Linked DNA regions of Homo sapiens. The protein of the gene in region 1 interacts with the protein of each later gene in a pairwise test. Each region holds a gene or a part of one and is shown in the gene's direction. Other genes may lie near its edges. The genes, in order: MTCL2, BHLHE40, AMOTL2 and HDAC7.

Region 1 (8,950 bases):
TGAATGGCTGGCAACTGCATTCTTCATTGAGAAAACAGAAGTGGGCCAGGCACAGTGGCTCATAACTGTAATCCCAGCACTTTGGGAGGTCGAGGTGGGTGGATCACTTGAGGTCAGGAGTTTGAGACCAGCCTGCCCAACACGGTGAAATCCTGTCTCTACTAAAAATACAAAAGTTAGCCAGGCATGATGGCGGGCACCTGTAGTCCCAGCTACTTGTGAGGCTGAGGCAGGAGAATTGCTTGAACCCAAGAGGTGGAGGTTGCAGTGAACTGAGATGGCATCACTGCACTCTAGCCTGGGCGGCAGAGTGACACTCCATCTCAAAAAAAAAAAAAAAAATTAGCTAGGCGTGGTGGCACGCACCTGTAATCCCAGCTACTCGGGAGGCTGAGGCAGGAGAATCATTTGAGCTTGGGAGGTGGAGGTTGCAGTGAGCTGAGATCGTGCAACTGCACTCCAGCCTGGGCAACAGAGTGAGACTCTGTCTCAAAAAAAAGAAAGAAAAAAGAAAAAGCAGCAGCCGGGCATGGTGGCTCACACCTGTAATCCCAGCACTTTGGGAGGCCAAGGCAGGCAGATCTTGAGGTCAGGAGTTAGAGACCAGCCTGGTCAAAATAGTCAAACTCCGTCTCTACTAAAAATACAAAAAAAAATTAGCCAGGTGTGGTGGTGGGCGCCTGTAATCCCAACACTCAGGGGGCTGAGACAAGAGAATTGCTTGAACCTGGGAGGTGGAGGTTGCCGTGAGCCAAGATCACACCACAGCACTCCAGCCTGAGCAACACTGTCTCAAAAAAAAAAAAAAAAGGCAAGGCCCTAACTGTTCAGTGGCTCCTTGAATAACTCAGTTTAGGCCAGGCACAGTGGCTCACACCTGTAATCCCAACACTTTGGGAGGCCGAGGCGGGTAGATCACAAGGTCAGGAGATCGAGACCGTCCTGGCTAACACAGTGAAACCCCGTCTCTACTAAAAATACAAAAAAATTAGCCAGGTGTGGTGGCGGGCGCCTGTAGTCCCAGCTACTCTGGAGGCTGAGGCAGGAGAATGGCGTGGACCTGGGAGGTGGAGCTTGCAGTGAGCCAAGATCGCGCCACTGCACTCCAGCCTGGGCGACAGCTCTGTCTCAAAAAAAAAAAAAAAAAAAAAAAAAGAATAACTCAGTTTAAAGGCTGCCTCCTTGGCTGGGTGCAGTGGCTCACACCTGTAATCCCAGCTCTTTGGGAGGCCAAGGTGGGCAGATCACAAGGTCAGGATATCGAGACCATCCTGGCCAGCATGGTGAAACCCCCGTCTCTACTAAAAATACAAAAATTAGCTGGGCATGGTGGCGCATGCCTGTAATCCCAATTACTTGGGAGGCTGAGGCAGGAGAATCGCTTGAACCCAGGAGGCAGAGGTTGGAGTGAGCCAAGATTGCACCACTGCACTCCAGCCTGGCAACAAAGCTAGGCTCCATCTCAAACAAAAAACAAAAAACAAAAACAAAAACAAAAAAGGCTGCCTTCTCTGAGAGGCCTTCCTGACTCCCCTATTTAATGAGGTTTCCCGACCGATTCCTCTAATTTTCCCATAGCCAGTTGCTTGTTTTTTAATCTGTATAATGAAAAAACAAAACAAAACAACTTTAGTTTAAAAGGAAAAAACACACCTCCTCTTGGAAGCTTTCCAGGAGTGAGTCTCCATTCAGTTTTCATCACGTTGGTCAATTTAGCAGCTTGAATGGGAGAAATGAAACCGTTTTTCTACTTGGGTAATCAGCATCTTCACTTCCTATGTTATATAATTCTTACAAGGTAATGCTTCAGTCTCTTTTGAGTAGCGCTTTCTGCAGCACACACTGTGTGTCTGTGCTGGGCACTTCGCAGCCCAATAGGGTACCACAACAGGCCCTGGAATTGGGCAGCTCTGGGTTCAAGTCAATCCCAGCCCTGCCACATCCAAGCTGTGTGACCTTGGTCACACATTCCAGCTACCCAGTGTTATGTAACAAATGACCCCAAAACTTAGTGGCCGAAAACAACAATACTTATTTTGCAGTTTGGGCAGGGTTGGTGAGACAGCTCATTTCTGCTCCACTTGTCCACTGGGGCAGCTCCAAGTCTGGGGGCTGAATCATCTGCAGGCTCACTCTCTCACATGTCTGGTGGTTAGTGGGGACCAGAGCTGGAGTTGTTGGCTAGATCACCTTCATGCGGTCTCCCCATGAGGCCTGGGCTTCCTCCTATCATGGTGGGTGAGTGGCCAGAGAGACAGAGAGAGAGAAAGAGAGAGAGAAGCAAGCTGGGTGGAATCCATGTTGCTTTTTATGACCTAACCTTGGAAGTCACAGATGAACACTTCTGCCATACTCTGTTGGTTGAGACAGTCACAAGATCTGCTGAGATTCAAGGTGGGGGCACACAGTGCCCCCACACACGTGCCGCACACATGTGCCGCTCAATTGGAGGAGCATCAGTGTCACATTGTAAGAAGAGCAATTGGGATGAGATATACCCTTTGGAAAATATTAATCAGTCACAAGAAGTATCTTCACCTTTTGGAGATCCTTTACTGAAATGTGGAGCACAGAGCCCGGCACACAGGAAGAGGCCACGCATCACACAGCTGCAGGATGTGCCGGCGCAAGGACGGTCACCCCGTCTACAATGTAGCCAGTTCTGGACTCTCAACAAGTCTTATCTCCTTTGTGGTATCCCTGGTCTGAACTGACCCTGAGTCCACAGCCCCTACGTCAGCCCCACCTAGTCCCTCCCCACCAGAGCCCTGTTGTTCTCAAGGCTTCCCTGGGTCTACAATGTAGATTCTTGACTCCCCAAATCCAAAGCACCTCAGAGCAGGTGGGACCCACAGGCCCCTCCCTGGCCAGCCATGAGTGTTGGGCCCAGAGAGGATAGGTGGTAGAGCCAGGACTCAGATCCCTGCCCTAGAAGAGAGATGCAGGCCACTCTAATCTCAGGACCACTGATGTGACCAAGGGTGTGTCAGGAGTGGCTGAGCCAGCCTGGTCTGCTATGTCCCTGCATTCACACCACCCAACACCTCCAAACCTATGTTCTGCACAGGGGCAGAAACTGAAGCACAGAGAGAGGACACACTTTCCAAGAGCTTCACAGCATCTTTCTGTGCCAGACTAGATGCAGCCTACTAGAGCCAGGGGCATCTGAGCTGGATGGACCCTGTCATCTGTTACATTAGACCAGAGCAGGTGGGGACTCTGAGGCCCGGAATGTGGGAAGGCCTGCCCTGGGTCACTAGCCTGCGGCTCCCACATCCTTCTCCAGCACTCCTGCCCACATGCCATGCCACCCTGTTTGTGCTGAGTCTTTTGTGGTCCCCCCCAACACACACTGTGTGCTCCATGAGTTCAGGCACTGACATGCCCACCACTGCGTCCCTCAGTGTACCTGGCGCCTGTGCAAACAGGGTTTGTGGACAGTCAGTGGGCCGTGAGGGGAGCTGGTGTCTTGCTAGGAGGGGGTGGGGATGCCCCTGCGGAAGTGTTTGCCAAGAGCCTGCTGAGTGCCTGCTCCTCACTTGGCCGTATGGAGGGCACCTAGCGTTGGGGTGGAGGAGCACTCACTCACCTGGATCCAGATGAAGTCATGCCTCTGGAGAGAGGGGATGCCCCAGGAGTGTATTCACAGCGTGTGGGGGAGGTGGGACAGAGACAAAGAAGTGGACCTGGTGCCTGCTGTGTCACAGGCAGGTGCAGAGGTGAAGGAAGGGAATTGGGGGAGGAAGAAGAAGGAGAAAATGGGCAGGAGGAAGAAGAGGGGAAAGAGGAGGAAAAGGAAGACTTGGAAAAGGAGGGGGGAAAGGAAGGGGAAAGATGGGAGAAGAAGGAGGAAGAAAGAGCAGGGGATAAATGGGAGGGGGAGGAGAGAACAGGAGGAGAAAGAGGTTGTAAAGGGGCAAAAACAGCCCTGCCCTTCTGGTGGCAAGGGGTGTGGGGCACCCTAAGGACGAGGGTACATCTGTGGGGCAAAGCACTCAATCCAGCTCTGCCCTGCGGTGGCTCAGGGATGGGGGCGTAGCGGCCAGGCGGTGTGGGGGCTGGGGAAGGTGTGAGAGACATGGGAAAATCAACACGGCCAGGAGCCAAGGAGACGCCCAGACGCCCGGGAGGAAAGAAAACACGCCCATCAGAGCTCAAGTCCTCCTGCACTGCTCCTGGTGGGGACGTGTGGGGTCAGGGCAACCGTCCCAGCCCATGCCAGCCCCCACGGGGGCCAAAACCGCCTTCCAAAGCATCCGCTAGGCTGACATCTCGTAATAGGTCCCCTCCATTTTATTTTTGTTTTTATTTATTTGTTTATTTTTTTGAGATGGAGTCTAGCTCTGCCACCCAGACTGGAGTGCAGTGGCGCGACCTCGGCTCACTGCAACCTCCGCCTCCCGGGTTCAAGCGATTCTCCTGCCTCAGCCTCCCGAGTAGCTGGGATTACAGGCACGCGCTACCACGCCCGGCTAATTTGTGTATTTTTAGTAGAGACGGGGTTTCATCATGTTGGTCAGGCTGGTCTCGAACTCCTGACCTCGTGATCCACCCGCCTCGGCCTCCCAAAGTGCTGGGATTACAGGCATGAGCCACCGCGCCTAGCTACGGGTCGCTTCCATTTTAGCCGTACAGAGCCTGAAACCCGGGTCGGGGGCGCATGGGGAGAAATATCCGCCGGTCAAGGTGCGCGAGCCAGGCATGCACACAGGGCTTCACGGTCCCTATGCCAGGAGAGGGAAGCCGAGGCAGGGGGAGCCCGAGCGCGCCCGGGAGGTGTGAGCTTTGGGTCCCATCGGCGCCGCCTAGACCGTGAGCTTGGCGCGTGCACCCCAGGCTTCAGTTTACGCATCTGTGCGATGGGATCGCGGCTCCGGCGATGCCGGCTAAGGGGGCGGAGTTCGCGCACGCTCGGCACGGGGCGAGGGGCGAGGCGCTGGGCGTGCATGGATGCGGGTTCCTGCGAACTGAGGTCCGCCCGGCCTCGGCCCGGGAGTCCCGGCTCCCGCCGCTCTCGCAGGCCCTGCCCGGACGCCGGGCGCAGGGGCGCCTCCGCCGGGTGCCTTCCCCGAGCGGGCAGGGGAGGAGGCGGCGGAGCGGAGGAGGAGGGAGCCCGGGCCGCGGCTGCCCGCGCCAGCCTGACCCTCGAAGGGGTCGCTGTTGCCTCGCAGATCCCTCCCTCGCTCCCTGCCTGCGTCCCTCCCTGCCGCTCCCGCCGCGTCCGCCTTTTGTTCGCGGAACCGCGCGCCCCCGAGCCGAGGCGGCGGGGCGGGGAGCTGGCGGGGCTGCGCGGGGGGCGGGCTGCGCCGGGCGGAGCCGGGGCCCGGGCCGCAGCCGGACTCGGAGCCCGAGGGAGCGATCGGCGTGCGGGCGGCGGGGGCCCGGGCGCGCTCCGGGGGCGCGGCGAGGCCGAGGGGGCGGGCGCCGGGCGGAGCCGCAGCCGGAGCCGGGGCGCCTGGAGGCGGTCGGGCCGCACTCTCCGAGCCCAGAGCAGCGGAGAGACCGCGCGGCGGGGCTTGGGACGGGGACGCGGTGTCGGGGCCGAGGTGGGCCGAGAGCAGCCGCAGCCCCAGCGGCCGGAGCCGCGCCGGGTCCCTCCCCAGGGACGTCGAGGCCGGGCGGGCCTGGGCCATGCGCGCAGCTCGCTGAGGCCGAGGGAGGCCGCGATGGAGGCGCCGGCGGCCGAGCCCCCGGTCCGGGGCTGCGGTCCCCAGCCCGCGCCTGCACCCGCGCCTGCCCCGGAGAGGAAAAAGAGCCACCGCGCGCCGTCGCCGGCCCGGCCCAAAGACGTGGCCGGCTGGTCGCTGGCTAAGGGCCGCCGCGGCCCAGGCCCGGGCTCAGCAGTCGCCTGCAGCGCCGCGTTCTCCTCACGGCCGGACAAGAAGGGGCGCGCAGTGGCTCCCGGGGCGCGCGGTGCGGGTGTGCGGGTGGCCGGGGTCCGCACCGGGGTCCGTGCCAAGGGCCGTCCGCGCTCGGGTGCGGGGCCGCGACCGCCACCGCCGCCCCCCAGCCTCACGGATAGCAGCTCGGAGGTGTCGGACTGCGCGTCGGAGGAGGCGCGCCTGCTGGGCCTGGAGCTGGCGCTGAGCAGCGACGCCGAGTCCGCGGCCGGGGGCCCGGCGGGGGTCCGTACGGGGCAGCCGGCCCAGCCCGCGCCCTCCGCGCAGCAGCCCCCGCGGCCGCCCGCCTCCCCGGACGAGCCGTCGGTGGCCGCGTCGTCGGTGGGCAGCAGCCGCTTGCCGCTCAGCGCCTCGCTTGCCTTCTCCGACCTCACCGAGGAGATGCTGGACTGCGGGCCCAGCGGCTTGGTGCGGGAGCTGGAGGAGCTGCGCTCGGAGAACGACTATCTCAAGGTGGGGGCGCCCGGGTAGAAAGGGAGGTCGCAGGGGTCGCCGGCTGTCACAGTCCCGCGGGCCTGAGGCACCAGCCGGCCCTCCTTCCCACTGAACAATCCGGAGAAAGGGGCCCAAGCCCTCTGGGGACCACTCTGAGGTGGATCTGGGGCTCCCTCATTCCCCCCGCCCCCTCTCAACTTTATTTGGGAAGCGCGCTCCTGAAAAAGACCTTGGAACTGGCTACAGGGCCCTAACCTGGGAGCGGGGACTTGAGAAAGCTTTGGAGCGTTCTGGGAGGCGTTGCTGAGGTGGGGGTGGGTAGCCAGGGAAGGGATGGATCTCTGCCTTCAGCTGCCCAGAACCTCCACGCCCAGGCTCTCCTTCTTGGGACGGGATTGATAGACACCGCCGCCAGGGAAACCTGTGGCCATCCCCTGCCCAGGAAAGGCCTGAATGCCATCCTGAGTCGTTACCCAGGGCTTTCCCGGGCGCAGGCCTGTCTCTGCCTGCCTTTCTGGGCGGGTCCAGTTTGAAAGCATGACATCTGGGAACATCCCCTTGGCTGGAGTCCACTTCCGCCCAGCCTAACGGTCCCACAGCCTGGAGGATGATGTCGTGGGAGAACCGGTTCAGAGGCAGCTTCCTAAATCCCAGGACAGTGTCTTTTGCCCTCCCTGGGGCAGACCTTGTGCACACAACAGCCCCATTGGCCCCTCGTGGCCAGTGCCTTTCCATGTTCGCAGTGAGAGGAGGGCAACTGCCCACCTGGAACAGGACTTCCCTGTGGCCATGTGGGGACCCTAGGGCTTCCCCCGGACAGCAGGCTTTGCCTTTGCTTTTTCAGTGGACATGAGCACCTACTGGGTGCCAGCCGGGCTCCATCTGCACGCTTCCAGGTGCCATGGCAGCTTTAGGGACAGCCCAGCTTGCACGTGTTGACCTCTCCCTGGGAGGCTGGAAGCTTCCTGAGCTCTCCTGCCGCTGGCTGGGCACGGTTTTGGAGGAGGCTGAAATGTTGCCGACTCTTGTCAGTGGATGATGGCCTGGCACAACACCCAGAGTGCCCCTGGCTGTGGAGCTCACAGCATGCTGCTGGTTTATGTCTGCCCTCAGCACTTAGGTTTTAACTTTTCCTTGTGGCTCTTCTGACCAAATGGGCTTCTCCCTCATTAGAGTGTTGGTGTCTTGCTCAACTATGTCTCTGTCTCCCCATTTTCCCCGGGATCTGCTCTCCAGCCTGAGTTCTGTAAATGCTTGTAGTATGGAAGGACAAGGTCTGTCTGAATCAAGAGACACCTTTCCCCAAGCCAGGCCTCAGTCTCCTCATCCGTTAAATGGGAGGATGTCTTCCCAAGGGCCGGGTTCGGTGTTGGCAACTGGGAGTTCAGTCGGCTCTTTGAGTCTTCAGAAGCCGGTGGTAAGGAGAGGGCAAGTGGAAGGTGAGGAGGAGGAGGGAGGTGACGAGCCAGGACAAGGGTCTTTTGCTCCTGCCCTCTTGGTGCTCTGAGCTGCTTCCAGTGAGTGCTGCCTGAATTGGCCTTAACCGAAACTCTGAGTTCCTCACCCCTGCCTCCCGGTTCCTGCTACTCACTCTGGTGAAGGGGGATGGGTTGCAGAGCTTTGCTTCAGGGCTCCTAGGCACCCATCTCCATGGGCCCCTGTCCATCCCAGGAAGTCATCAGGCTCTGACCCAAAGTCTGTTTGAGGCACCCATGACTGTTTAAAGGGGAAAACAGTCCCAGGAGGCTGGGGGTTGAGCCCGGGATCTCACAGGGGCCGGGGTCCAGCTGGGGACATCCCACGTTTGGGCCAAGATGGAACCGTAATTTCCACCATTCATTCAGTGGCTCAGGCTTCGTGCTGCTATTGGATCTGGGGTCTGTCGCTTCCTGACGGCGTGATCTTTGGCAAGTTACTTAAAGGCCCTGGACCTTTGCTTTCTCATTTGTAAAAATGGGACAGTAACACGCTTTCCAACCTCAACGGTTAAATGAGCTGATTCCTGCAAACACCATTAGAGCACCTGGTATGTAGTAAACCTCTGATCACTGCTCTTGTCAGAGGCACGGGACATGTTTCCATGTGCACCCAGCCTGTTCTCTTGTGGATTCTGTGAGGGCAGAATAGATCCTCTTCATCACCCAAGGCAGGCTGGGCTCTTTCTCCTGGCCCCTCATTGGTTCATTCGGCAGCTGTTTATTTAGAACCTGCCGTGTGCTAGGGCAGATCTGGGATACAGCTGTGGACAAGGGAGGATGAGGTGTCTGTTTTCATAGAGCTTTTGGGGAGACCAGAATTAAACAATAGTCATACAAGAAATCACAACACAGATCATAATGAGGGTAAAGGGGACAGTTTGCCAGGAGCACACGAAGGTGGGGGCTGGGGTGCACAGGGAGGCTGAGGGCTGCAGGATGCCGTGGAGCCAACTGAGTGAGGGTCTGGAGTAAGAAGATTTCAGGCTAAGGGAAATTGGAATGCTCGTTGAGTTCAAGAACAGCGCTAAGGCCAGAGAGGGGAAGGAGTGTGGGTAAGAGAGGAGAGCAAGGCCAGCCCATGCCACTTCTCACTGTGTACATTTGGGTTAGTCCCTTAACTTCTCTGTATATCTGTTT
Region 2 (4,343 bases), on another chromosome or scaffold:
GAAAATCATTGCCCTGCAGAGTGGTTTACAAGCTGGTGAGTGCTGATTCTGGCTATGCTCTCTTTAAGAGTTTGAGTGCAAATAGAGAGCCCGTGGGCTCAACATCTGATGTAATAAACATTACTGCAACAAATTGCTTATGCACGTTCATTGGGGGAGATGCAGTTTTATCTTTCCTAAAAGGTCAGACTTTTCATTTGAAATGCATTGTGCCACCTGGCATGAATACGTATTAGTGAAATGATAAGATATTCCTGTGGCATTTTAGCTTGAGAGTCTCTGGGTTCTGGGAGATTTCCCTACTCCCTTTTAAAATGCCAAGGCACCTATAATTTGCATTGTGGGTGTTTTACAGTTGGTCTTCTTAGCCCTCTTTCATTGGAGAAGAAATCATGGGTATGCCCCAGCGTTTTCCTGTTTCTTTGCTTCCTTGTCACTTGGTGTGTGGTGTGATCCTGGCAGGATACAGCAGGAGTTTTTCCTGCATTTCATGTGGTTCCCTGAATAGCCACTAGGTATCTTGGTGAATTGCACAATCTAGCGAAACCACTGAAGTTTCATCATTCGTTTCTACTGACTTCCAGATAATCGGAGTCAACCTTCTAACCTTCTAGTCTCACTTCTTCCAAATAATACTGTACAGACTGGGGAGAATTATTCTACCCACTCCCTCATTTCATGCTTGTCTGCCTTCCTCTCGAAGGCTCGTATGATGAAAATTGCAAAAACCCAGCTAGTGCTTCTGCCTGTTTCCTCATTCAAAATAGGAAGATGGTCATACCTAATGTCTTGAGGATCATGGATAGAATATGTGGAGAAGACATAGAAATAGCCTAATTAAAGGTCACAGCATGACTGCAACTTTTACAAATCATTGAAAATAAGTTTACTTTAGGTGATTGTTGTTTCTTCATTCTTTTCCTCATTTTATAACTATCCAGCCTCTGCCCATTTTGCCACGGTGCAATGTTGTATGCATTGACTCTTAGGTTTATAAATACATCAGAATGTTCTTTGCTGCCTCGCTTACATGGAAAACTCACAAACCACCTATACAATCCAAAAGAGGGGAAACAGCTCATCTCATATTAATTATGGTCCATTTCCATGATAGGATATTATGCAACCATTAAAAATCATATTTTATCTGAGTGTTAGTATATGGATTATTTTAATTATTTATACTTTTCAGTGTAATTCTTCTCTGAGCATACTACTTTTGGAGTTAGGAACACAAATCAGTAAATGCATTTTTTTTTTTAACAAAAACTAAAGCACCTGGTTTTTTGGAGTATAGTTTCCAGGTGCGCCACAGGCCTTCTGAAACGTTTTCCTTCGGATTTTTCTTTCCCCAGGTGAGCTGTCAGGGAGAAATGTCGAAACAGGTCAAGAGATGTTCTGCTCAGGTTTCCAGACATGTGCCCGGGAGGTGCTTCAGTATCTGGCCAAGCACGAGAACACTCGGGACCTGAAGTCTTCGCAGCTTGTCACCCACCTCCACCGGGTGGTCTCGGAGCTGCTGCAGGGTGGTACCTCCAGGAAGCCATCAGACCCAGCTCCCAAAGTGATGGACTTCAAGGAAAAACCCAGCTCTCCGGCCAAAGGTTCGGAAGGTCCTGGGAAAAACTGCGTGCCAGTCATCCAGCGGACTTTCGCTCACTCGAGTGGGGAGCAGAGCGGCAGCGACACGGACACAGACAGTGGCTATGGAGGAGAATCGGAGAAGGGCGACTTGCGCAGTGAGCAGCCGTGCTTCAAAAGTGACCACGGACGCAGGTTCACGATGGGAGAAAGGATCGGCGCAATTAAGCAAGAGTCCGAAGAACCCCCCACAAAAAAGAACCGGATGCAGCTTTCGGATGATGAAGGCCATTTCACTAGCAGTGACCTGATCAGCTCCCCGTTCCTGGGCCCACACCCACACCAGCCTCCTTTCTGCCTGCCCTTCTACCTGATCCCACCTTCAGCGACTGCCTACCTGCCCATGCTGGAGAAGTGCTGGTATCCCACCTCAGTGCCAGTGCTATACCCAGGCCTCAACGCCTCTGCCGCAGCCCTCTCTAGCTTCATGAACCCAGACAAGATCTCGGCTCCCTTGCTCATGCCCCAGAGACTCCCTTCTCCCTTGCCAGCTCATCCGTCCGTCGACTCTTCTGTCTTGCTCCAAGCTCTGAAGCCAATCCCCCCTTTAAACTTAGAAACCAAAGACTAAACTCTCTAGGGGATCCTGCTGCTTTGCTTTCCTTCCTCGCTACTTCCTAAAAAGCAACAAAAAAGTTTTTGTGAATGCTGCAAGATTGTTGCATTGTGTATACTGAGATAATCTGAGGCATGGAGAGCAGATTCAGGGTGTGTGTGTGTGTGTGTGTGTGTGTATGTGCGTGTGCGTGCACATGTGTGCCTGCGTGTTGGTATAGGACTTTAAAGCTCCTTTTGGCATAGGGAAGTCACGAAGGATTGCTTGACATCAGGAGACTTGGGGGGGATTGTAGCAGACGTCTGGGCTTTTCCCCACCCAGAGAATAGCCCCCTTCGATACACATCAGCTGGATTTTCAAAAGCTTCAAAGTCTTGGTCTGTGAGTCACTCTTCAGTTTGGGAGCTGGGTCTGTGGCTTTGATCAGAAGGTACTTTCAAAAGAGGGCTTTCCAGGGCTCAGCTCCCAACCAGCTGTTAGGACCCCACCCTTTTGCCTTTATTGTCGACGTGACTCACCAGACGTCGGGGAGAGAGAGCAGTCAGACCGAGCTTTCTGCTAACATGGGGAGGTAGCAGGCACTGGCATAGCACGGTAGTGGTTTGGGGAGGTTTCCGCAGGTCTGCTCCCCACCCCTGCCTCGGAAGAATAAAGAGAATGTAGTTCCCTACTCAGGCTTTCGTAGTGATTAGCTTACTAAGGAACTGAAAATGGGCCCCTTGTACAAGCTGAGCTGCCCCGGAGGGAGGGAGGAGTTCCCTGGGCTTCTGGCACCTGTTTCTAGGCCTAACCATTAGTACTTACTGTGCAGGGAACCAAACCAAGGTCTGAGAAATGCGGACACCCCGAGCGAGCACCCCAAAGTGCACAAAGCTGAGTAAAAAGCTGCCCCCTTCAAACAGAACTAGACTCAGTTTTCAATTCCATCCTAAAACTCCTTTTAACCAAGCTTAGCTTCTCAAAGGCCTAACCAAGCCTTGGCACCGCCAGATCCTTTCTGTAGGCTAATTCCTCTTGCCCAACGGCATATGGAGTGTCCTTATTGCTAAAAAGGATTCCGTCTCCTTCAAAGAAGTTTTATTTTTGGTCCAGAGTACTTGTTTTCCCGATGTGTCCAGCCAGCTCCGCAGCAGCTTTTCAAAATGCACTATGCCTGATTGCTGATCGTGTTTTAACTTTTTCTTTTCCTGTTTTTATTTTGGTATTAAGTCGTTGCCTTTATTTGTAAAGCTGTTATAAATATATATTATATAAATATATTAAAAAGGAAAATGTTTCAGATGTTTATTTGTATAATTACTTGATTCACACAGTGAGAAAAAATGAATGTATTCCTGTTTTTGAAGAGAAGAATAATTTTTTTTTTCTCTAGGGAGAGGTACAGTGTTTATATTTTGGAGCCTTCCTGAAGGTGTAAAATTGTAAATATTTTTATCTATGAGTAAATGTTAAGTAGTTGTTTTAAAATACTTAATAAAATAATTCTTTTCCTGTGGAAGAGAAAGATGGTCTCCTGAGTTTTTTAAAATAGCTCACTTGGTGTGATATGGCTGACTCCCATGTCCTTCTTTCTTGGCTGAAGCAAACCAGTTAATCTCAGTGTAATTTCATTCAGCTTTTCATGTGCTTTGTATTCAATCAGAATAAGCTTAGTCAACCTGGCAGGTAAATATTGGTTCAATTTTTGTTTAACCCTTGCCAGGGGTTCATGATCATCCTCTACCTCTTTCCAGAGTTAAGTAAAAAGCATATTTTCCCCTGCCTGCTTTCATCGTGGTCCTTGGAACTTGACAGAAAACCAAGGTATGACACCGTGGGCAGCAGTGTCTGGGGAGCCTGCTGGAGGGAGAGGCACATTGAGAAAAGATTTACTGGATTATTATGCAATACTAATTGATGCTAGGATAGCACCTCTTTGCCAAAGCAGTCTAGCTTTTTCAAATCTAGCAAGGTCTAATGGATTTGCCATATCCTGTCTTATTCCTGCTGGAGGCAACATTCCATAATTATTTTCTACATCCTTCCTGGACTTCCTCTCCGGTATGTTTGTGCGTGAATGCATATTGGGTGTTCCTTCGACAAGTGCTCTTATTTAAAAAAAAAAAAAAAAAATTCCATGGGAAAGGTGGGAAATGACCCTGTCGTG
Region 3 (7,934 bases), on another chromosome or scaffold:
AGCTGAGCCATAGCAAGCCAAGTGGAGGCATCTGAGGCAGCCAAAAATGGGATCCTAGACCTTAACCAACAGATGCATTCTAAACGGGGCGGTCTAAGCATCCTTGAAGAATGGGCAAGTTCATTGACTAGTCCATTTATTCATTCATTAGCAGATGTGTTTTAAGCAACTGGCAGATGTTCAAGAGAGAATGGGAGCAGGCCCAGGAAGGTACCATGGCAGGGAGGTCAGGAAGGAAGTGGTGAGCTTAAGAAAGGAGCAGGTTCCCACAGATGCAAAAGAACAACGGGGGTGGCCCTAGAAACCGGTGATTAGGAGCCCCGGTGGCCTGAGAGAGGGGCTCTGTGGGGATGGCAGGGGTGGAGAGCCAGCCAGAGGTGAAGGAGCTATTGGGCAGTTCAAGAGGTACATGGGGTGGGTGGCAAAGGGAGCCCTGAGCTCAGCAGCAGGAGGCTCTAGCAATCAGAAGAGACTAAGAACAGTTATTTATTGAGCTCCTACTAGGAGCTTTAGTGCTGTTCAAGGTGTTTGCAGAGAAGTGGAATGGGAGTGGTTGGTAGCTGGGTAAACATGGCTTTGAGTCTTCACAGGAACCCTACTGTGAATGGCACAAAGGGTAGTGTGGGGTGCAGAAATGGAGGAGCAGCTTGAGGACTTAGCTCTGGCTGGCAGCACCCCTATCTTCCTTCAAAGAGGGTTCAAAGACTAGGGCAGGGAATGGGGGAACACAGCACTGAAGGAATTGACAGGGTGGGGCAGGAGGTAGGCTGGTCTCTTCTGGCTGGGTGGGGTGAGATGGCAGCGGCTTAAGGTCTCTGGGAAGGAGTCAAAGGGAAGGAGGGAGAAAGGGGAGGGGGCAGCCCTGGGGTTTCCCTGAGGAGTCTGGGGAGGAGAAGCTGCAAGGGCACGGCAGATTAGGGTGCCTGTGGAGGAAGGCGGACTTCTGGAGCCTGACTCTGCCAAAGAAAGGAAGCCATGGGGCGGGTTTCTGGGAGCTTGCTAGTGGGTGAGAAGAGGGGGGCCGGCCGGGAGGCGTTTCCGCTCCCCGGGGAGCGAGTGAGCGCCGAGCTGTTCTTGGCTCCTCGCTGGAGCCATTAATCTTGCAGCCGCGGGTGACCTGGATGCCTGGCATTCCAGAGCCGCGAGCTGTTCCGCTCCCGGCCCGCCCCCCGCCGCTCCCTCCCGTGCGCGCTGCCTGGCGCCCTTCGCCCGGCTTTGGGAGGAGGGAGGGTGAGCACAAAGGGAGCCTGGAACGTGGAGGTGGGGGCTCGCTCGCTGCCCAAGGCGCATCCCGGGTCCCGTCGGCGCCTCGCCTGCCTTCCTGCCCTCCTCCGCTGGCCTTCGGGCGTCCTCTTCCCACCCGCACCCAGACCACTTATTTCTTACTAAGGAGCTCTCCTTCCCGAGATCCCGCAGGCCCAAGGTTTTATCAGGGTCCTGTTGGTAGGGGATGGCCAGAGCTCAAAGCCTCCCAGCCCCCACCAGGGCCTTAGAGGTTGGACAAGGCTGCAGGAAGCTTCTGGAAGCAGAGGGCTGGGTCCTCCGGCCCCTTCCTCCCCCAGGGCTGAGGAAACCCAAGCAGCTCTTCCTTGCTCCCTAGTAGCTATTGCAAAGGGAGGTGTCTGATTGACCTCCCTTTTATCTGGGGTCAGTCAACACTAGGAAAGTGTGGCCATTATCACCAATGCCATCTGCTTTTCCTCCTAGGCAAGCCACGCAGCCCCCCAGCACTGCCCTTCTGGCCCTTCTAGGCCAGCAGTGCCCCCTGGGGATCTGGCCTTGAGGCCTGAGGCTGGCCTGTTAGCTCCACCCCCTTGGGAATATTTCTTCTCTCCCTGCGCCCCAGATTCTCCAGCTATAAGATGAGACAGAGTCCTTCCCCACAGAGTCATGCTAAGGCTGAAATGAGATGCAGGCCCTGGGCAAACTGAACGCACAGGTGGACTAGGGGAGGGTCCTCCCTGCCTGAGTCCCAACCTGGCTGCCCCTCCTCAATGGATGTTAACACCCCACTCAATGGATGTTAAGCCAGCGAAGTATGAACACATCCGTTTCAATATTATTGGACTTCCTCGTATTTTCCTCCATGCCACAGAATGATACCATCCTGGGCTCAGCCTTCAAACATCCAAAATGAATCAAGAGCTAACCTGAGTTGCCTCTGTGTCCTCCCTGCCCTGCCCCAGGGACCTGAGTAAATGAATCCTCCCTTCCACATGCCAAGGTCTCAAGCCTTCACCCTTCTGTTCCAGAACTTGCACTGTCCTATATGATAGGTACTTAGCTGCATGTGGCCCAAAGATTGAAATTAATGAAAATAAATTAAATTTAAAATTCAGTTCTCCCATCTTACTAGCCACATTTCCAGTCCTCAGTGGCACGTGTGTCTAGTAGCCACTGCATTGGAGGGTGCCGTATAGAACAATTCCACTCTGGCAGAAAATTCCACTGAATCAGAATGCTGTTCTAGAGACAGTGCCTTTAGGTTCATTAGCGGGAGCCCATAGCCCTGCCCCCCACCTGCTCTCCAGCAAGGTAGGCAGCTGACCTGCTCCTCAGGGGGCAGCCTGGGACTCTCAAGGGGCAGGTGCCTGGGAGGTGGATTTAAGGCTAGAACATCAGATGGAGGGCTCTGTGGTCTGGCTTGGGCTTCTCCTGGCCCTATGGAGAGGGCCTCTGAGCAGTTTCTTTGGGCAATTAACAAAATGATTTAAAAGTCAGGATAGCTTGACCCTTACACACTAATCTTTGGGCCATAGTCATTTTCACTGTACTGCAGACTTTGCATTTCCTTCTGAGCCTGGTTGCTTACATCTCAGTGTTCTTTTCAGACCATGGAAGGAAATGTAGCCCTCAACGGACCTCTCGGCCTGGGTCTGCAGAAGGAGCCCCAGAGCTCTGGGTGGCCTATAAGTACAAACGCCTCACCATGTAGCCAGAGGCAGCCTGGGCCTTTGTAGTGTGGCCAACTGGGGTTTCCATTTGGCAGCACCATTCACCTCCTATGTTTCTCCCCTATAAGTTGGGGATCCCAAATCCTCCCTGGAGGGGCTGGAGGATTCGTGGAATAAGATGTGTAAGGGCCTGGTGTGCCGACAGCCGATGGTGGTTCTGTTCCCCCTTCTTTCATTCTCCCACTGGAAGGAGGACCATGTCACAGCCTACCTGAGTCTCTATTTTCTCATCTGTACATGGGCATCACAGTTCCTACCTCAACAGTCTCGAGCCGTCACAAGGTTCAAGGGATATTGTGGATGTGTTTTAGACATGGTGCCCCTGGCACAAGTGGATGGTGTTTGGGGCTGTCCCATGGCAGTATGTCCCAGTAGAAAGGCAGGGTAGCCCAGTTGTTACTGCAAGGGTCCTGGAATTGGGCTCTGTCATTTACTCCTGACTTAACATGAGCCTTGGTTTCTTCTTCCATGAAACAGGGTTAATAGTGGTACCTTATTCCTGTTATTTTTGAGAGAATGAGAAGCAACTGTGCTCATCCAGTGGTCAGCACTGAGCCCAGGAGGCAATGGGGCCAGCCAACGTGGTCACTGTCACTGATCAAGCCTCTTTCTCCCTACAGGCTACGAACAGCAGCAGGAGCAAGAGAAGCTGGAGCGAGAGATGGCACTGCTGCGCGGCGCCATCGAGGACCAGCGGCGGCGTGCCGAGCTGCTGGAGCAGGCTCTGGGCAATGCGCAGGGCCGGGCAGCTCGAGCCGAAGAGGAGCTGCGCAAGAAGCAGGCCTATGTGGAGAAAGTGGAGCGGCTGCAGCAGGCGCTCGGGCAGCTGCAGGCAGCCTGTGAGAAGCGGGAGCAGCTGGAGCTGCGTCTGCGGACTCGCCTGGAGCAGGAACTCAAGGCCCTGCGTGCACAGCAGGTGAGCTGAGAAAGTCTCCAGGCTAGGGCAGCATCTGAGGATGTTGGCTTCCCTTCCTCCTCGGGGACTGTAGGTTTGGAGGCCAGGGCTGAGGCCCCGGGAGCCCCTGCTTAGATCTAGGCTGCAGGCCCGTTGGAAGGCGGCGAGGATGATTGCTCTCTGCTCCACCTTTGCTGCGTGCTCCCTTCCACTCGTTGTCTTAGTAGAGGCCCTGCCACCTGGCCCATGTCCAGCCTCGGGGGACTCCTGTCCTCGGCAGCAGCAGGGCTAGTTGTCCTTGACCTCTAGAGAAAGTAAGTCAGGAACCTGGATATAGAAGGCCTGCGAGCTTTTTTTTTTTTGAGATGGAATCTCATTCTGTCGCCCAGGCTGGAGTGCAGTGGCGCGAACGCTCACTGCAACTTCCACCTCCCAGGTTCAAGCCATTCTCTTGCCTCAGCCTCCCGAGTAGCTGAGACTACAGGCGTGCGCCACCACGCCCAGCTAATTTTTGTATTTTTAGTAGAGATGAGGTTTCACCATATTGGCCAGGCTGGTCTTGAACCCCTGACCTCACGTGGTCCGCCGACCTTGGCCTCCCAAAGTGCTGGGATTACAGGCATGAGCCACTGCGTCTGGCCACCAGCCAGCTTTTATATGCCTCCCCAAGATTGGGAGGAAAGATGGTTGTCCAGATCCACTGTGCTTAGCCTCACTTCGGACTTCTGTGTAAACAACTCTTGGTGTTTACAAACCAAATAGAGTTATTTCTCCACTCCCAAACCTACCCTTGCCACAGAGGTAGTGTGACTGAACCCCCTGGTTTGCCCAGTTCTGTTCTAATGTACACCAGTTTTCCCAGTATAATTATTGATAGCACCCCCTTTGCCAGTTTGGAGGATTATCTGTCTGGTCTCTATGCCCTTGCCCTAGGATTCAGGGCAGGGGTATGGGGACCTGTGCTGTATCCCCATTTCGGTAGAGGAAGGATGGGGAAATGTATGCTGTGTATGGCTGAACACGTACATGTACAAGTGACAGTCGTGTGGAGGCGAAGACCAGTGGCTGCCACACCCCAACCTGCACCCTTGACCACGGTCTCTACTCCTTGCTCTGCAGAGACAGGCAGGTGCCCCAGGTGGTAGCAGTGGCAGTGGTGGGTCTCCAGAGCTCAGCGCCCTGCGACTGTCAGAACAACTGCGAGAGAAGGAGGAGCAGATCCTGGCGCTGGAGGCCGACATGACCAAGTGGGAGCAGAAGTATTTGGAGGAACGTGCCATGAGGCAGTTTGCCATGGATGCGGCTGCCACGGCTGCTGCTCAGCGTGACACCACTCTCATCCGACATTCCCCCCAGCCCTCACCCAGCAGCAGCTTCAATGAGGGTCTGCTCACTGGTGGCCACAGGCATCAGGAGATGGAAAGCAGGTTCGGCATTGCAGGCCAGGCACCTGAGGTTGGGGGGGTGGGTGGCAATGTCCAGTCACTGCCCTGCCCTTGATCCCTGATAAACAGGCCCCTTTCCCCATAGAGCTCAGCAGTCCCTCCTGCTTCTGAGCTGAACCTGCATGATTGGCACACCAGGCACTGTAAACATGCATTTGCCCAGAAATACCGAGTCCTTGGTCTGCCCAGGAGACTCTTACTGTGGAGGTGTTGGGTGCCATCCAGTGCTTGGGCCCTGCCTCCCCTCTCCGGAGTGCCGCCCTCCAGGATGAGGGCTGTGCCGCCACTATCATCTGATGAATCTGGAACCCATCCTTAATGGCCTGCCTTTGCTGGTGTGAGAAGGGCCCAGGGCCTTATGCACTGGTGGTTTTCAGAGCCTGGGCTCTAAGAGCATCAAATTCCAGAGCTGTGGTGCCATTTCTAAGCCCTCTCTGGGTCCCTGCTACAAGCACAGAAGGATCCAGCCTGGCAGGGTTGGGGGAGTTGGGGGGGGCTTTTCCTCTAACTCCTATGAGGCAGGAAGGGTGGAGGCTGTTGGATCTGTGGGTCTGACAATGTGGGCATGGCCTCTCACCCCTCAGGTTAAAGGTGCTCCATGCCCAGATCCTGGAGAAGGATGCAGTGATCAAGGTCCTTCAGCAGCGCTCCAGGAGAGACCCTGGCAAGGCCATCCAGGGCTCCCTGCGGCCTGCCAAGTCGGTGCCATCTGTTTTCGCGGCTGCGGCAGCAGGAACCCAGGGCTGGCAAGGGCTCTCTTCTAGTGAGCGACAAACAGCAGACGCCCCTGCTCGGCTGACTACAGGTAAGAGGAGGCTACTGCTGGGATAGATTGAGAGGTAATTTCTCCTGGGCCTGAACACAGATTGCCAGACCTTTCCTCCCAGAACTGAGGCTATAGGAGCCAGGGCTTCCTGACCCTCTTCCAGGGGAGCTGGCTTATTCTCTGCCTCTAGTGACTCTACAGCGCAAGGCTCTCCTGCCAGTGTGAAGAGGGGTACTTAGTCCCCATCACCATAAATTCTATCATGCTTCAGCCCCAGCCACTGAACTAAGAAAAATAGAGCTTCCTGTGCAGATACACCTTGTATGCAAGCTCCCTCCACTCTTCCTTCTAAGCAGATGCCACAGAAACTCTAGAAGATTTAATCTATAAGGAAGGGTCCCACCACCCAAAACATTTGGAAGCCAATCCAATCTGGTAGTTATTCCCATTTGAAAATAGGAGCATTTTTAGTCTTAAAGTTCTTGCAAATCAAGAGCAGCCCACTCCACCTTGAATCCCCAGCAGGGACAGTTAACTTAGAGTGTCCTTCACCAGGGCCACATCTTACAGGCATGGCAATAACCATCCACCTACCTTTCCAGCAGACAGAGCACCCACAGAGGAGCCAGTGGTCACAGCTCCCCCTGCTGCCCATGCCAAACACGGGAGCAGAGATGGGAGCACCCAGACTGAGGGCCCCCCAGACAGCACCTCCACCTGCCTGCCACCGGAGCCTGACAGCCTTCTGGGGTGCAGCAGTAGCCAGAGAGCAGCCTCTCTGGGTAAGTCCTCCTGACCCCACTTCTGTGCTAGGTAGGGCCGAGGGGGCACTGGGGTGTGAACTGGAACACAAGGCCTTTTCTTCCCAGACCCCCTCCGGGTCATTGCCCGCACTCCATGGGGAGCCGTGCATAGCCAGAGGTGAGCAGGGTGCCTGGCCCACCTCAATGTGAACATGAGGGATGGCTGGTTGCATGAATAGGGAAATTGGAAACCCTGATTAGAGGCAGATCCAGAATTCAGAAAGAAAGCAACCAGATGGGAGGCACTTTAGCTCCTCTTTCATGGTCTTCCCTACATAGTTAATTTCCAATTTGATTATCCAAGAGAATGGAGCTCGCAAGTCATGCCGATGGCACTCTGGAAGCCTGTTTAAAGAGTCCGGGAAGGAGAAATCTGAGAAGATGCCATTTCTTTTTCCACTCCCCTTTCACATTGGCCTTTGCATATTTGCCTGTGCCTCATGATCTCAGAAAACCACAGGCATGAAAAGAATGCTGCAGCCTGCCTCCCTCAGGGCTCTCCATTGCTCTCTCTAAGCCCTCCAACCAGTTCAAAGTTAGAAACAAATGCATCCTACACATCGGAGGTTGGTGGGCTGGGCTGAGCACTGAAAGGGGGCAGAGCATTGTGCTTGGTTGGCCGAGTTCTGGGAACCTGGGCAGCAGAGGTGGGAAAAGTTGGTGAAGAACGATCTTTGTCTTTCAAATGTGCCAGGATTTTAAAAGCAATCTAGTAACACTCATTGGCATGTGCCTGTGTTCTTGTCTGTCTCCAGACTCTGTAGCTACATCCAGAGTCCAGGACTTGTCAGACATGGTGGAGATACTGATCTGAAGGAGGTGGTGCTTCAGGACTCTGAGCCATTCTCTCCCCTCCTCTGCCCTGTGCCACTCTCAGCCATTTCAGCAGCCCCGTCAACCGCTGCTCCGTCCCTTTCCCCAGCCAGACACTCATTCCCATTGACCATCTGGTCCCAGGAGCTCAGGAGGAGGACCCCAGGGGAGAGGAGAGCTGTGAGAGCACCGGCACCCCCAGAAGACTCTGCTTCTTAGCCCACATTCCTCCGGGCCTTATGGAGAATGAGGATTCAG
Region 4 (7,956 bases), on another chromosome or scaffold:
AAGCCCGGTCAGCAGGTGACCCTGCCGGGTATTGTGTTTCCTTGTAATATTTTCCCCCTGTTTCTGTGGTAACCTTCCCTGGAGGCCCCAGGCCTTAGGGCTACAGGAAGGTGCCCCCAGACAGCCCTTTCCTTAGAGGCCTGAGTATTAGGAGGAGTCCCCAGATCTAGCCACCTCCCTAACCCTTTTGGCTCCCTAGGATCAGGGGCCTGGGAATCTAGGCGAGTGGCCTGAGTGAGCATGGACTCGCGGGCTGGGGGAAGGCCCTTTGGCGTCTTCTGGGGGGAAGGGAGAGGGAAAGAGGGGAGCTGGACGCCCGGAAGGGCCCTGAGCAACTTGAGTCGCTGGCCTAGCCTCTTGTTTCCTCCCAACCCATCCCCACTGCCCTCCTCCAGTCTCCCTCCTCCTACAAGGGAGAGGTGGGTAGCATGCTGCCTGGGGCAAGGGGCAGGGGTGGGGGTGGCAGAGGTGGGAGGGATGTTTTCATCAGCAGAGCATAGCTCCTTTGGTCCTGGACCAGTTCCCAGAGGCAAAATAAATTCAGGACAGCGTCTGTTTAGTGTGGGTCTGCATGAGATGTGTGTGAGCACACACTGGGTGCGTGGTGGGTATCTGTGTGTGTACCCCTCCCCCCAGACCCTGTGTATGCTGATGTGGTGGTTCCGGGCAATTTGTGATCTATGTGGTGGTTCTGTGTTGGGTGTTTTGGGAATATGCACACATAAAAGACAGATGTGCATCATCTGTATGGTGCACACCTTTTCAGGTTATGGCCCTGTGTGGGGTAAACATGTCCATATGTATGGACATGTTTTTTGGGGGTATATATCTGGGCAGGAGTGGCTTTTTAATAGAAGTCCAGATGCTGGCTTGTAAAACACCATCTCATTTGGGATTCTCAAATGCGGGTTCCTGGACCATTTGCTTCAGAGTCACCTGGGGAATGTGTTAAAGATAAAGATCCTGGGCCGGGCGCGGTGACTTACGCCTGTAATCCCAGCACTTTGGGAGGCCGAGGCAGGTGGATCACCTGAGGTCAGGAGTTCAAGACCAGCCTGGCCAATGCGGCGAAACCCTGTCTCTACTAAAAATACAAAAAATTAGCCAGGTGTGGCGTGCGCGCCTGTAATCCCAGCTACTCGGGAGGCTGAGGCAGGAGAATTGCTTAAACCCGGGAGGCAGAGGTTGCGGTGAGCCAAGATCACGCCATTGCACTCCAGCCTGGGTGACAGCAAGACTCTGTAAAAAAAAAAAAAAAAAAAAATCCTGGCTGGACGCGGTGGCTTTGGGAGGCTGAAACAGGCAGATCACTTGAAGGCAGGAGTTCGAGACGAGCCTGGCTAACAGGGCAAAACCCCATCTCTACTAAAAATACAAATTTAGCCAGGCATGGTGGCGCAGGCCTGTAGTCCCAGCTATTTGGGAGGCTGAGGCAGAAGAATTGCTTGAGCCCAGGAGGTGGAGGTTGCAGTGAGCCGAGATTGCGCCACCTCACTCCAGCCTGGGCAATAGAGTGAGACTGTCTCAAAATTAAAAACATTCAGATCATCAGGCCCATTCCAGATTGACTAGTCAGAATCTGAGGGGTGGGGCCTGGGAATCCAGATTTTAACAGGTGCTTCAGGTGATCCTGGGGCAAGGCTGTGTTTGAGGACCACTGCCCTGGGTCAACCTCTTCATTTTTTCTTTTGAGGAAATAGACCCACAGAAGGTATGTAGTTTCTCTAAGGTGACAGGGCCATTAAGAGGAAGAACCAAGAGAAAACTCAAGGCTTCTAAGACCTGTCCAGGACTTTGTGCTCACCCATGTACCCCCTGTGTGTGTGTGTGCATGTGTGCTCATAACTACACTTTGTGATGACGTGGACCCGATTGGGCTGGTGCTAATTGGGGCTGATCTTTCCTCTGGGGTCCTGGCTTTCTTGTTTTCTGACCTTGTTCTTCTTGCTACATTCTGCTGCCTCCTTTTTGGAGAAATCCTGGAACTGTTGAGTGTCATCCCTAAAGGTCAATGTTGGCAACCAGGGAACCATGTTGCTGAGCCAGTCACTCAGCAATTCATCCATTCACTGGATCCTAGCTGAGCCTTGCAATGTTCTAGGCACTGGGTACAGATATGCAGTGAACACACAGGCACAACATCTGACCTCAGGGAACTTCCACTCTCGTGGAGAAGACAAACAGAACAAGTAGGCAAGTAAAGGAATGAGTATGTGTGACTAGTTACACACTGTGATAAGCCCTAAGAAGGAAATGAACTGGGCATGGCAATAAAGAATAACAAGGTGGGACTTCCTTTGATAGGGTGGCCAGGGGAGGACTGCCTAAGAAGGTGACATTGATGCCGTCTCCCACCTCCCCAGGTTGGAAGTGAGCCATCAGAGCCTCTGGAGCCGTGCTTGTGAACTCCCTGGATGCAGGTGGAGGCCCTGGGCTGACCAATGGCTAAGGGTTGGAGCTGAATTGCCAGCCTCTCACTTGGCATGGAAGATGGCAGTCTCCTCCCCTTAAGCAGCCCCAAAGGTTGGCAGAGGGGAGAGCAGAAGGGGGAGCTGCACAAGGCCAAGATCAAAGCCACTCCCTTGCTTGGGGAGCACCCTTTTTCTTCCATGGGGCTGAGTCCAGGGCCCTGTGGCCATACTGAATGTTGAGAAGGAGGCAGCATCTCCCCAGGAGCTCTCCTGTTTCACCTTCCTCCCACCTCCTTCCCTTCTCCGCCATCTCCCCAGTTGGGGAACTACTGTGCCAAGTCCCTTCCCTCTGGTCTAGCCTGCTGCCTCTGTGGCCACTTTACTTTACTTGGCTCAGGAATCACCAAAGAGAGGGGGTCAAGGCCTAGAGGGGACCTGGGCCCTGGAAGAGAGGACAGAACCAGAAAGGAAGGCTGGGGTTGGGACCAGAGAGGACAGGGCTCAAGGGAGGATGGAGGCTGGGACAGGAGAGGCACACGGGAAAAACCTGAGCCCAGATGGCCCTTTGGCTGGGCTCTCCAGAGTCTCTCCTGGGCCCTTGGAATCTGCTGCCCAAACTGGGGGAGACTCTGAGACCAGAGGGCCAGATGGGGCTGATTCAAGACACGGGCTCTACATCAGCTGGGAGGAAATGCCCCTGTCTGGTCCACCTGCAGCTCTACGCTTCACCCCTCTCAGGAGGTTAACTTTCACATCAGCAACTTGGGTGTCAGGTTCCGGCTCTAGGCCAGCAGGCCTCAGCCCCTCTCACCTCCAACCTCTTCTCCCAGGAAGGTTTTTCTGGGGACCCAGAGCTTCAGGCTGCAGGAAGGTGTTGCCTGGCCCTTGCCTTAGATTATTGAGTGTCAAAGGAGCCCTGACTCCAGGTCCGCTTTTCCCCCTGCACACTGCCAAGGCTGCCTTCCACCCTGGGCCTCTCTGGAGGCTGCTCAGTGCTCTTCCCGACTCCCAGGCCTTCCCGCCCAAGCTCCACAGCCCCCACAGCAGGATGGGGAGGGGACTTCTCCTCGTCAGGAAGGCCCTGGGCTAAGCTCACCATCCCCACCCTGTCTCCGCACCACTTCCTTTTTCCTCCATCTTGCCTGCAGGGATTGTAAACCCTGGTGGTCAGAAGCTTTGGGCCTATAGGGTCAGCCTCTCACCCTGGGGATCCGTAGGGGAACTCCAATCCCCTTCAGTTCAGCTTCCTCCCTGCAGGACCCATTCCAAGGAGCCTAGCTCTGGCTCCTGAGGTGACCCCAGCCCAGAAGTCCCATTCCCCTCTACCCCAACCCCCAGAATGGCAGGAGGAGCAGGGCAGTCTGGGAGTGACAGGTTCGGAAAGAGTCTGGGGTGGGGGAATTCGGCGATTGGGCTGTAACCGTCTTGTTTTGCTTGCCCCACAAACCTGCACGTCCGGGACGTCCGCTGCGCCCTCCCAGGCGCGTTCAGGTTATAGAACTGCTCTCAGAATGACAGGCTGGTGGCACCCGGCTGGGGCGGGGGGTGGGGAGGTGAAGGGGGGAGCCCCAGGCAAGGGGGAGCTGGAGGGTTAAAAATAGCAGCAGCCTTGTTTCGGTTAGCAAATGTGGAGGCGGGGAGCTGGAGGCGGGGCGGGCGGCGGACGATGTTTGCCCGCAGCGCAGGGCTGTGCTTCCCCTGGGTCCCGGGAGTGAGTCACGGCGGAGACGCTGAGGAGGTGCTGGCGCAGCACCCCACCCCCACCGGGCGAGGGGCTGAGCGCAGGCCTCGCCCCCCAGATTCCAGCGCTGAAGGAGGTGTGACTCTCCCTTCCAGGCAGCCGGGGCCGCCTTGAGAGTGAGCCAGGGGCATCGTGTGATAATAGGGAAGAAATGTGCCATTCTGACGCCAGAGATCTGGGTTTGAATCTTAGTCGAAAGGTGTGGGATCTTGAGTAAGGATGCTGATGGCTCTGAGACTCGATTTCCTAGTTTCAAGTGGGGCTTTTCTCTGTGCCCCACTTAGTGCTTAAAGCACTCTACAGATGTTAATTATCGCCTTAGACCCTACTGTATATATGGCAAAGCCTGGCAGGAGAGCTTCCTGTAAGGACGCAGAGGGAGGAATGGGATGGCCTTGGCTGAGTCTCGGTTTCTCCTGCAAGTGTGATTATGGGCACATTTTGCTCTGTGCCTCCACTTCTTCATCTGTAATGTGAAAATAATTACAGTTTCAACTTTATGGAGTTGCTATGAAGATTAAAGGAGATAATGTAAATAAAGTTAGCTCTGTGCCTGGTATGAAGTCAGGGCTCACTGAATATTCATCATCATTATTAATGTTATTGTTCATATTTTTTGAAGGTCAGGGATAGGGAATGTTGCAGACACGAAGAACAGAAACTGGGCCTAGCCCCAGTTCACAGAAAAAACCAGGCCAAATCCCTGTTCCAGATTCCTCCACCCATCGCGGCCTGGAACAGCCAGAGAGCTGTAGCCAGAAGTCATAGGGTGGACCCCTGCTTCTCTTGTTCACTCCCTCTCCCAGCCTCTCCCAGTGAGGCAGGGCGAGGAGGGACCCCAGGGCCTTGAAGCCAGCTGGCCCTGGAGAGGGGCTGCTGTGCCAGCTTGGGGAGGGTCTGGGATGGGGCTGCCCCTGATGGCCCTGATGTGGAGTACCTTGCCAGCATCTGCTGGGGTGAACTTTATTTTAGCCCTTCCCTTGTTGCTCTTATGAAGAACAGAGGAGGGGTGGGCAGGTCAGTGATGTCAGCAGTGAGTATTCCCAGCACAGCGGCTCTGGAAGAGGCATGAGGCATTTCTTTCAGGAAATGATCATTATTCAGCCAGAAGGCATTCATTAAGTAAGTCCTGACTTTGTGCCCAGCTCTGTGTTATAGGCCCTTGGCGAGACTCAGGAGGGGCAGAGGACGCTAGGTTGTAGATAACACGGAACCTCAGAGGATATATGGTCCAAGAAGACCCGGGGGCGGTGAAAACCCTGTGGACTAATGCTCACGGGAGCCCGAGGTCACACTTTGACTTTGCTACCATGGGCTGTGTCTATGTACGTATATATGCTGCGTAATTATTACAGAGGCAGTCCATGTGCATTGTGGATACTCAGACAGGACAGACCAGCAAAAACTAAAAAATAAAAAACATCACAGACGCATCAGTCAGAGATCACTGCACATCTTTCCATTTCCGTATGTGTCTTTATGTGTTGTAATTTTTATGAAAATGAGATTACTCTGCATATACTGTTTTTTCAGTCAGTGATTTCCACCTTCCATTACAGTAAATTTTCATCTTAACGGAATTCCCAGTTGGCCAGAAATTGTCCTTACAGCTGGTTTGTCCAAATCAGTACCCAGGACCATGCCATCTGTCTGTTGAGTGACCTGAAGGCAGTGTAAGCACCCTAGCTGGATTTGTGATCTGGAAAAACCCCTTCAACCAAGTCTCAAGGGCAGCCTGGCTGCAAAAGGGAATCAGGTCACGTGGAGAATCTGCCCACTAGACTTCTGCTGTCTTCCAAAGTAATAGGCAAAAGGAGGGGGATTCTAGGGCACCACTGGGATGGGACCTCTAGGGTATTTACTGTCATTAATGTTAATGTGGCATCCCTGTGAGTGTCAGGATTCACAGCTTGTGGCTATTCACATCCGAGATGCCTCAGTTCGGTTTGCCTGGTTCTTACTGAGTGCAGACCAGGGTCTCCATTGTGGCTTCTGCCTTCCTCTGCCCCAGATCCAGGGATGCTGATAGCCGTGCGGCTGTGTTCCTAGTCCCCAGAAAGTGGCCCTGAAGGTAGGTGCTCCCTTTTGCACTTGTGGGTGCTTCCAGCGCTTCCACCTGCCCAAGGCCTGCCCGTGAGTGAGAGACAGAGATAGAGATAGAGAGAGAGAGAGAGAGAGAGAGAGAGAGAGAGAGAGAGAGACCTTTTCCTCCCAAGAGAATTTACCCCCGAGTACCCACTCTGAGGGTGACTTGCTCTGGTTATGCAACCCGCATTTTGTAGAGGGCTTGACAGTTTCCAGAGAGCTCACGCAGCGTTTGATCCTCTGTGGCAGCCCTGGGAGGTTTGCTTGTTTAGTTATACCCTGCTGGAGGCAGCTAACAGGAAACACTGTAAAGTGTTTAAATGGTACACTTTAAAATGGTAAAATGTACATTTAAAAAGGAAGGGAAATAGAAGATGAAAAAGGAATTGAGGATGGCAGGGGTGGAACACAGCACACTTTGTGGGAACAGGCTGGCATTGGGAGCATACCCTAGGGCCTCACTGTGTCTTGCATCCCCTTGTCCCCTTGGTGGTCTCACCTCAGCCACTACTAGGAGGCAGGCTGAGTAAGCAGTCCACGCCAGTGTACCGATGCTAAGCTTAGGTTCTGGAGTCCCAGCAGCTCCACATACCATCTGTGTGACCTCAGCAAGTTTCTGAACCTCTCTTAGCCTTAGTTTCCTCATTTGCAAAATGAGAATAATAACAGTATATAGGCCGGGCGCAGTGGTTCACGCCTGTAATCCCAGCACTTTGGGAGGCCAGGGTGGGTGGATTCAGTGAGTTCAGGAGTTTGAGACCAGCCTGGCCAACATAGTGAAACACCGTCTCTACCAAAATACAAAAATTAGCTGGGCATGGTGGCTTGCACCTGTAATCCCAGCTACTTGGGAGGCTGAGGCAGGAGAATCACTTGAATCCGGGAGGCAGAGGTTGCAGTCAGCTGAGATTGTGCCACTGCACTCCAGTCTGGGTGACAGAGTGAAATTCTGTCTCAAAAACAAAACAAAACAAACAAACAAAAAAACAGTATCTGCCTTACAGAGTTGTGAGGACTACTTGCAATAGTACAATTAAAATGTTTAGTGGGGGCCTGGTGTGGTGGCTCAGGCCTGTAATCCCAGTACTTTGGGAGGCAGAGGTGGGCGGATCACTTGAGGCTGGGAGTTCGAGACCAGACTAATCAACAGGGTGAAACCCCGTCTCTACTAAATATACAAAAATTAGCCAGGCATGTTGGCGCACGCCTGTAATCCCAGCTACTTAGGAGGCTGAGGCAGGAGAATCACTTGAACCCGGGAGGCAGAGGTTGAAGTGAGCCAAGATCGTGCCACTGTACTCCAGCCTGGGTGACAGAGTGGGACTCCATCTCAAAATAAATAAATAAATAAAAATCGCTTAGTGGGAGGATGTTGCCCTCCCCCCGCCAAAAATGCCTAGGATAATAGCCAGCACACAGTAAGCATTAACACATGATTGTTGATCATTATTAATATTATTAATTAATTAAAATAATATAACTATTGTTGATATTGTAACTTAAACATTTCCCTGGCAGTCTTGGGAATGGGCTGCGTGGCCTTGTGGGTGGCACAGGTGAGAAGAGTGAGGAAGGCACATCTCGCTCGGCCTGCAGCTGGGAGAGGCAGAACCAGTGGGCAAAGCAGGAGTAGGGTACACAGAGGGGCAGGGTCTGCATGAGGAGGGCCCAGGAGCTGGGGTGACAAGGAGAGCAAGGGAATGAGTGTGACACCTCAGA

The links.
Region 2: the proteins of MTCL2 (region 1) and BHLHE40 interact in binary tests that used the Homo sapiens proteins (3 or more experiments, as listed by UniProt).
Region 3: the proteins of MTCL2 (region 1) and AMOTL2 interact in binary tests that used the Homo sapiens proteins (3 or more experiments, as listed by UniProt).
Region 4: the proteins of MTCL2 (region 1) and HDAC7 interact in binary tests that used the Homo sapiens proteins (3 or more experiments, as listed by UniProt).

What each region holds. Positions count from the first base shown.
Region 1 is NC_000020.11:36,860,061-36,869,010, reverse strand, and holds the start of MTCL2 (microtubule cross-linking factor 2), read left to right. Parts: upstream 1-5,472; 5' UTR 5,473-5,666; coding exon 5,667-6,353; intron 6,354-8,950. UniProt on the Homo sapiens protein: Microtubule-associated factor that enables integration of the centrosomal and Golgi-associated microtubules on the Golgi membrane, supporting directional migration. Preferentially acts on the perinuclear microtubules accumulated around the Golgi.
Region 2 is NC_000003.12:4,981,481-4,985,823, forward strand, and holds the end of BHLHE40 (class E basic helix-loop-helix protein 40), read left to right. Parts: coding exon 1-35; intron 36-1,355; coding exon 1,356-2,212; 3' UTR 2,213-3,843; downstream 3,844-4,343. UniProt on the Homo sapiens protein: Transcriptional repressor involved in the regulation of the circadian rhythm by negatively regulating the activity of the clock genes and clock-controlled genes.
Region 3 is NC_000003.12:134,357,448-134,365,381, reverse strand, and holds part of AMOTL2 (angiomotin-like protein 2), read left to right. Parts: intron 1-3,574; coding exon 3,575-3,870; intron 3,871-4,968; coding exon 4,969-5,276; intron 5,277-5,878; coding exon 5,879-6,099; intron 6,100-6,662; coding exon 6,663-6,842; intron 6,843-7,618; coding exon 7,619-7,677; 3' UTR 7,678-7,934. UniProt on the Homo sapiens protein: Regulates the translocation of phosphorylated SRC to peripheral cell-matrix adhesion sites. Required for proper architecture of actin filaments.
Region 4 is NC_000012.12:47,809,202-47,817,157, reverse strand, and holds part of HDAC7 (histone deacetylase 7), read left to right. Parts: intron 1-1,504; exon of another isoform or gene 1,505-2,483; coding exon of another isoform or gene 2,484-2,523; exon of another isoform or gene 2,524-4,077; coding exon of another isoform or gene 4,078-4,228; intron 4,229-6,204; exon of another isoform or gene 6,205-6,223; intron 6,224-7,956. UniProt on the Homo sapiens protein: Responsible for the deacetylation of lysine residues on the N-terminal part of the core histones (H2A, H2B, H3 and H4).